Homo sapiens: one gene and its partner. The protein of the gene in region 1 interacts with the protein of each later gene in a pairwise test. Each region holds a gene or a part of one and is shown on either strand. Other genes may lie near its edges.

Region 1 (4,020 bases):
TAAATGTATTATTTTATTATTTGTATTAAAAATCAGGTAGTAAACAAACAAAAAAGGATACAGAATAAAGATATTCACTGTCAAAATTTTACCCTGCTAAAAAAAAGGAACTGAAGTTTTCAGTAATATATGTAACTCACCAATTATCTACCACATTTTTTGGGGAAATGTATTCATTGTCTACAGCTGAAATTGAACAGAGATTTTTTTTTTTTTTCTTTTTTTCTTTGGTAGCTACCATTCTAAAAGCTAGATGGACTTCTGTATGAAATCACTCAGCCATAAAAGCACATGCCTGAGAAAATTTCTAAACTCACTCTGAGAAAGATAAAGTAAAAGTTTTCAACAAGTAAAATATATTATTAATTTTTGAAACTCACCTTTTATGGCCTTTGTAAATATTTCCTTACCTTTCAAGCTCTACTAATAAAATGCAATACACAGTTAAAAAACTGAGGTCAGCTGAGCACAGTGGCTCATGCCTGTAATCACAGCACTTTGGGAGGCCAAAGAAGGTGAGTCACTTGAGGCCAGAAGTTTGACACCAGCCTGGCTAGCATGGTGAAACTCCATTTCTACTAAGAATACAAAAACTAGGTGGGTGTGGTGGTGCACACCTGTAATCCCACCTACTTGGGAGACTGAAGCATGACAATCACCTGAAGTCAGGATTTGGAGGTTGCAGTGAGCAGAGATGGCACCACTTTACTCCAGCCTGGGTGACAGAGGGAAACTCTGTCTTAAAAAGATACATAAATAAACTTTAGGTCAAAGCAAATGAACAAATCCTTTCAAGGTACAGATATGTTTTACTCATGTGTCAAGTCAGGCCATTCAATTAGTTGATTGTCTAAAACTGAAGTGTGACTGAAGATACGTCACCCTATGAAGTTTCCAAAAAAAAAAAAATCTTGACCCAAAAACATTCTAAGATATCTGTGACTAGGTAAAATAAAAGAAAAAAACACAGATATTTTACAATAGTGTCAGATTATTCTTTGCTTTATTCTCGTAGGAAATATTTAGAAAAAAAATCATTGTAAATGTGCCATCAAATGCTTTGTCAAAAAATAATTAATTCACCAGGCACGGTAGCTCACATGTGTAATCCCAGCTCTTTGGGAGGCCGAGGCAGGAGGATGACTTGAAACCAGAAGTTCAAGACCAGCCTGGCCAACATAGTGAAACCCCGTCTCTACTAAAACTACAAAAATTAGCCAGGCGTGGTGCCAGGCATCTGTAATTCCAGCTACTTGGGAGACAGAAATGAGAACCGTTTGAGCCCAGGAGGCGGAGGCTGCAGTGAGCCTAAGTCATGCCACTGCACTCCAGCCACTGCACTGCAACAGAGCAAGGCTCTGTCTCAAATACTTTTAAAAAAAAAAAAAGATTCATTAAAATAGGTATCAATATGTACACTAAAGGACAAATAGTTGATAAAGTCAATTAGAGAGGAGAAACTGGCATTTGGCAACGTCAGACAAAACTGGAAATTTAGTATTTTACTGCAAGCCAGTCAGGCTGGAGGAATAAGGGATGAGGGGCAGACTTGAGGCCCTGCTTGGGACACTTGTGAAAAATTCAGGGAAAAAATCAGTCCCCTGTGGAGTGTGAAAACCATTAAGTGGCAGGAAATTAGATTGAGGTGGCTCTAGTCCCTGGATTTCTACTTCTAAAAAAAAAGTCTAAACTCAAGAGCATTTTTTTGTAAATTACTACATTGGCAGAAACAAAATTCAGGCTTAACGCTTAACCAACTATAAACTGCCAATTAAGCTCTGATTACATAACCATGATATTTCCACCTTGATTGTAAAAATTAAGAACTAGGACGGGGGCAGTGGCTCACGCCTGTAATCCCAGAACTTTGGAAGGCCGAGGTGGGTGGATCACCTGAGGTCAGGAGATCGAGACCTGCCTGACCAACACGGTGAAACCCCCGTCTCCGCTAAAAATAAAAAAAATTGCCAAATGTGGTGGCAGGCGCCTGTAGTCCCAACTACTAGGGAGGCTGAGGCAGAAAAATCGCTTGAACCCGGGAGGTGGAGGTTGCAGTGAGCCGAGATCACGAAACTGCACTTCAGCCTGGGCAACAGAGACTCTGCCTCAAAAAAAAAAGAAAATGAAAACAAAACAACAACAACAAAATAACAACAAAATCTACATAACCGTACCTAGCCAATTACGGAATTTGGTTTTATGATGAAACTTATAAAAACCTTTCCTTCCATGGAATACAAATTAGAAACCACAGCAAGGTGCTCTAAAATTTTTGAATCACACTTTAAATTATTTAATGTTTTTGCAGTGAGGCCCATAAATTTTTAATAGGAAAAAATGGCCTGAAAACCCCACGGACCAAAGCTCTTCCCATTCATGAGCCCGCACCCGGAGTCAGGATTCTGCCCTGACGTTCCTCCCATGGTCCCTGCACAATCTGGGAGAGACGCGGGGCTACTGGTGCAGAGCTGCCCAAAGAGGGCTCCAGGCCAGGGCACAGTCACTGCGCAGTGAAGAGACAGAACGCCCGGGAGCCCGGCTGTCAGCGCAGCCGCCATCTTAAGGCTGAAGGGACTGAGGCCGAGCTGGGCAACAACTCGGGCGCAGATTGTAAAACTGACAGCGAGGAGGCCTGAGTCCCGCCACTGCCGCTTCCCACCGGTTCCAGCCAGCCCCGTTCCCTCTCTTGGGATGTCGCACCCGGCACTCTCACCATTTCTAGGCTTCCAGGGGGCAGGTCACAGGGCCACAGAGGCTGCGCCCCTAAAAGCAGAAGACACAGAGTAGTGAGGACGAGACCTGGAGCTCCGGCCGCAGATAGAGACAAAGGCCCCGCCAAATCCCGGAAGCCGCCCTGTTCGCTCCAGCTGCGTGCCTGATTGGACAGTTCCCAGGACAGCGTCTCTGATTGGATAACGTTTAAGAACCCCGCTTTCTAAGGCCCTGAGTGACAGAAGATGTCATCAGACGTTGGGCTGAATGAAGAAAGATTGACAGCCTAAGCCTCAGCCTTTTCAGGCGGGGCTTCCTCCCGGAGCTGAACGAGGCCCATCTCAGAACACGGAAAAATTTTCTCTCTTCTTTGCTGTCTTTTTTTCAACGTATTAAATATGTGAATAATTTTTTTTTTAGACAAAGTTTCGCTCTTGTTGTCCAGGCTGGAGTGCAATGGCGCGATCTCGGCTCACTGCAACCTTCGCCTTCCGGGATCAAGCGATTCTCCTGCCTCAGCCTCCATAGTAGCTGGGACTACAGGTGCACACAGCCACACCGGGCTAATTTTTGTTTTTTGGTTTTTTTTAGTAGAGATGGGGTTTCGCCACGTTAGCCAGGCTGGTTTCGAACTTCTGACCTCAGGAGATCCACCCGCCTCGACCTCCCAAAATGCTAGGATTACAGTCGTGAGCCACCATGCCTGGCCGACTCGATATTATCTTTAAAGCAAAATTAGGAATACCTTTATTCCCCAGATGTTGGAATATCTGGACACTCCTCCGTCTGGTTCTGCTTAGTAAACATTATTAATTCATTTCCTTAACCATAAATATCTAGAGGCTAGGAATGCCTAACTTACTGAGAATGCAGCCCAGCGAGTCTCAGCGTCATTTTCCTAGCTCTCTCTCAAAACGGAGTCGCTCTGGTTCAAATGATTCTGACATATTTTTCGCCTTCCTTTACAAGAGGACCCTTAATCCTAAGAGTTGCAGAGAGACAAAGATTCGTCTTCTGTAACTTTTTCAGGCTGATTAGGGGCGATAATATTCCTGCCTAACCATTGGTCTCTTGCATTCAGGGTAGAGAGAAATTCAGTCAGACAGTGTTGGTATGGTGAAGGTCGTTCATAACTTCTAGTTCCAAAAGAAGGTGATGTCTAGAAGATTAATAAGCGTCCAATTTAAGAAAGCATTTAGTGAGCTTGTCTTGCATTCCTACACAAAGAGTACAACCACAATATATTCCACAACAGCAAAGCAAAATTAGTAAAATTATTCCACGTAAACTAAACAGGAAAGCCTTTCA
Region 2 (3,543 bases), on another chromosome or scaffold:
CTGCAACGTCTGCCTCCTGGGTTCAAGCGATTCTTTTGCCTCAGCCTCCCAAGTAGCTGGGACTACAGGCACACGCCACCACATCCAGCTAATTTTTTGTATTTTTAGTAGAGATGGGGTTTCACCATGTTGGCCAGGCTGGTCTCGAACTCCTGACCTCAGGTGATCCGCCCGCTTTGGCCTCCCAAAGTGCTGGGATTACAGGTGTGAGCCAGCACGCCTGGCCTTTGTTTTGTTTTTTTGAGACAGAATCTCACTCTGTATCCCAGATTGGAGTGCAGTGGCATGATCTTAGGCTCACTGCTACCTTCACCTCCCGAGTTCAAGCGATTCTCCTGCCTCAGCCTCCCAAGTTGCTGGGACTACAGGTGTGCACCACCACGCCCGGCTAATTTTTGTATTTTTAGTAGAGATGGGGTTTCACCATGTTGGCCAGGCTGGTCGTGAACTCCTGACCTCAAGTAATCTGCCCGCCTTGGCCTACCAAACTGCTGGAATTACAGGCATGAGCCACCATGCCAGGCCTGTCCAAAGAGATTTTATATTGGTACTATTTATTACAGAAAAATTGGAAACAACCTAAATGTTCTAACGCAGAGGATTAGTTAAGCTTTTTTTTTTTTTTTTTTTTTTGAGACAGAGTCTCGCTCTGTCAGCCAGGATGGAGTGCAGTGGCACGATCTCGGCTCACTGCAACCTCCGCCTCCTGGGTTCAAGCAGTTCTCCTGCCTCAGCCTCCCAAGTAGCTGGGACTACAGGCATGTGCCACCACACCCGGCTAATTTTTTGTATTATTAGTAAAGACCGGGTTTCACCATATTAGCCAGGATGGTCTGGATCTCCTGACCTCGTGATCCATCTACCTCAGCCTCCCAAAGTGCTGGGATTACAGGCGTGAGCCATCATGCCCGGCCCTAGTTAAGCAGTTTTTAAAAATATATCAATAGGGTATGGGCCTGGTGGCTCATTCGTGTAATCCCAGCACTTTGGGAGGCTAGGATGGGAGGATCACTTGAGCCCAGGAGTTCAAGACCAGCCTGGGCAATATGGCAAAACCCTGTCTCTGCAAAAAAATACAGAAATTAGCCGGGCATAGTGGCACATGCCAATGGTCCCATCATTCAAGAGGCTGAGGTAGGAGGATCGCTTCATTCAGCTCAGGAATTCAAGGCTGCACTGAGCCATGATTGTGTCACTGCACCCCAGCCTAGGGAACAGAGTGAGACCCCATCACTACAAAAAGTTTAAAAAACTAGCCAGGAGTGGTGATGGGTGCCTATATAGTCCTAACTACTCTAGAAGTGGAGGCAGGAGGATCACTTGAGCCCAGGAGTTCAAGGCTGCAATGAGCCATGATTGCACCACTGTACTCCATCTGGGCAACAGATGAATCAGGAGTTCAAGTAAGACCCTGTCTAAAGAAGAAAAGAAAAAAATTGTTTGTACATAGATGATGATTTAATAGGGTTGAGAGACGCAACACTGATGTGTCAATCTGTGCTTACAGCAGACAGAGAATAAGGAATAAGGAAAGGGAAGGATAATTAGGTCCTAGCCATAGGGGAGAAGACTATTAGAAAAGTTATGTTTTAAAAGGAAAAATGTGGGAATAGAGGATAGCTTCTCTGTTTTCATTACCTGGCAGACCCCAGAAATGGCTTAATATTGGCTTATTTACATATAGTCTACAGTTAAGTTGCAGTTAGCTGCTGTATTAGGCCGTTCTTGTGTTGCTATAATTACCTGAGACTGGGTAATTTATAAGAAAAGTGGTTTAATTGGCTCATGGTTCTGTAGGCTGTACAGGAAGCATGGCATCTGCTTCTGGGGTGGCCTCAGGAAGCTTCCAATCATGATGAAAGGCAAAGAGGGGACAGGTGTCTTATGCATAGTGGGAGCAGGAGGAATAAAGAGGGGTAGGTGTCATACTTTTAAAGAACCAGATCTTGTGTGAACTCAGACCAATAACTCACTTATCATCAAGGGGATGGCAACCAAGTCATTCATGAGAGATCTACCCCCATGATCCAAACACCTCCCACCAGGCCCCACCTCCAAAGTTGGGGATTATATTTCAATATGAAACTTAGAGGGGACACATAAACTATATCAGCTGCTAAGAGATTTCATTTCCTTTAAGTGCACTTATGGCTGAAATTTTCCATAATAACTGTAGATAACTCAACATGTTTAAGTAGATTTTAGTTTGGTATTTGATTAAAAGTTCATAAAATGGAACAAGAGGAAATTAGTTATTAGCAAGAATGTTGAAGAAAAGTTGGAATTAAAAAAAAATCTCAGGCGGGTGCAGTGGCTCACGCCTGTAATCCCAGCACTTTGGGAGTCTGAGGTGGGTGGATCACCTGAGGTCAGGAGTTCAAGACCAGCCTGACCAATATGGTGGAACCCCCATCTCTACTAAAATTATAAAAATTACCTTGGTGTGGTGGTATGCACATGTAGTCCCAGCTACTTGGGAGGCTGAGGCAGGAGAATCGCTTGAACCCGGGAGGCGGAGGTTGCAATGAGCTGAGATCGCGCCACTGCACTCCAGCCTGGGCGACAGAGCAAGACTCCTCTCAGAAAAAAAAAGAAAAGAAAAGAAAAGTAGATTCCTGTTAATTACTAAGGAAAATAAATTCTGCTGGGCATGGTAGCTCCTGCGTGTAATCCCAGCTCTTTGGGAGGCCAGGGTGGGAGGATTGCTTGAGGCCAGGAGTTCAAGATCAGCCTGAGCAACATGGTGAGACCCTGTCTCTACAAAAAATAAAAATAAATAAAAATAATTGCGTGGTGGCACATGTCTGTAGTCCCAGCTACTTGGGAGGCTGAGGCAGAAGGATCACTTGAGCCCAGGAGTTAAAAGTTGGGGCATCAGAAATTTTAGACACTTAAGCTGATTTCTTTGATGTATTTAACAACATACATCCAGAAAAGTGGATCATTTGGGTGCTGAGGGAACATCTAGAATCTGCTTTAGTCATAATTTTTTTTTAGATGGAATTATTTTGATCTAGAATATTAACAGTGGAGAAAAAGCTAATATAAATGGGATGGTTTTGAGACAGGCAATGAAGGTTAAGGAAAAACAATCTGTAGATAAGTTAGATTTCCAAGGCATTTGTTGAAATGAATGGCTAAAGTAGCTTGAGATGAAGGGGTGATAGATGGGAGAAAGGAGGAGGTTGCTGGAATGACAAGTTTTTGGTGAAGTATTACTCCTTGGTTTATTGGCAGTAGAAGGGACATAAGGGTGGTGCAGGTCAGCCATTTGGATAATATTTGCTGTATGTGATCCTTGCAGAAGGCGAACTAGAGCTAAGGGGCCAGGCCAGGCATGTTGGCTCATGCCTGTAATCCCAGCACTTTGGGAGGCTGAGGCAGGCAGAGCACTTGAGCCCAGGAGTTTGAGACCAGCCTGAGCAACATAGTAAGATCCTGTCTCTACAAAAATATTAGGTGGTGTGCACCTGTAGTCCCAGCTGTTTGGGAGGTTGAGGCAGGAAGATCACTAGAGCCCAGGGAGATTGAGGCTGCAGTGAG

What was found. Proteins that work in one complex are often made in the same cells at the same time.
Region 2: the proteins of ZNF726 (region 1) and PFDN2 interact in binary tests that used the Homo sapiens proteins (3 or more experiments, as listed by UniProt).

What each region holds. Positions count from the first base shown.
Region 1 is NC_000019.10:23,913,691-23,917,710, reverse strand, and holds the start of ZNF726 (zinc finger protein 726), read right to left. Parts: upstream 2,826-4,020; 5' UTR 2,717-2,825; coding exon 2,714-2,716; intron 1-2,713. UniProt on the Homo sapiens protein: May be involved in transcriptional regulation.
Region 2 is NC_000001.11:161,104,515-161,108,057, reverse strand, and holds part of PFDN2 (prefoldin subunit 2), read left to right. Parts: intron 1-3,543. UniProt on the Homo sapiens protein: Binds specifically to cytosolic chaperonin (c-CPN) and transfers target proteins to it. Binds to nascent polypeptide chain and promotes folding in an environment in which there are many competing pathways for nonnative proteins.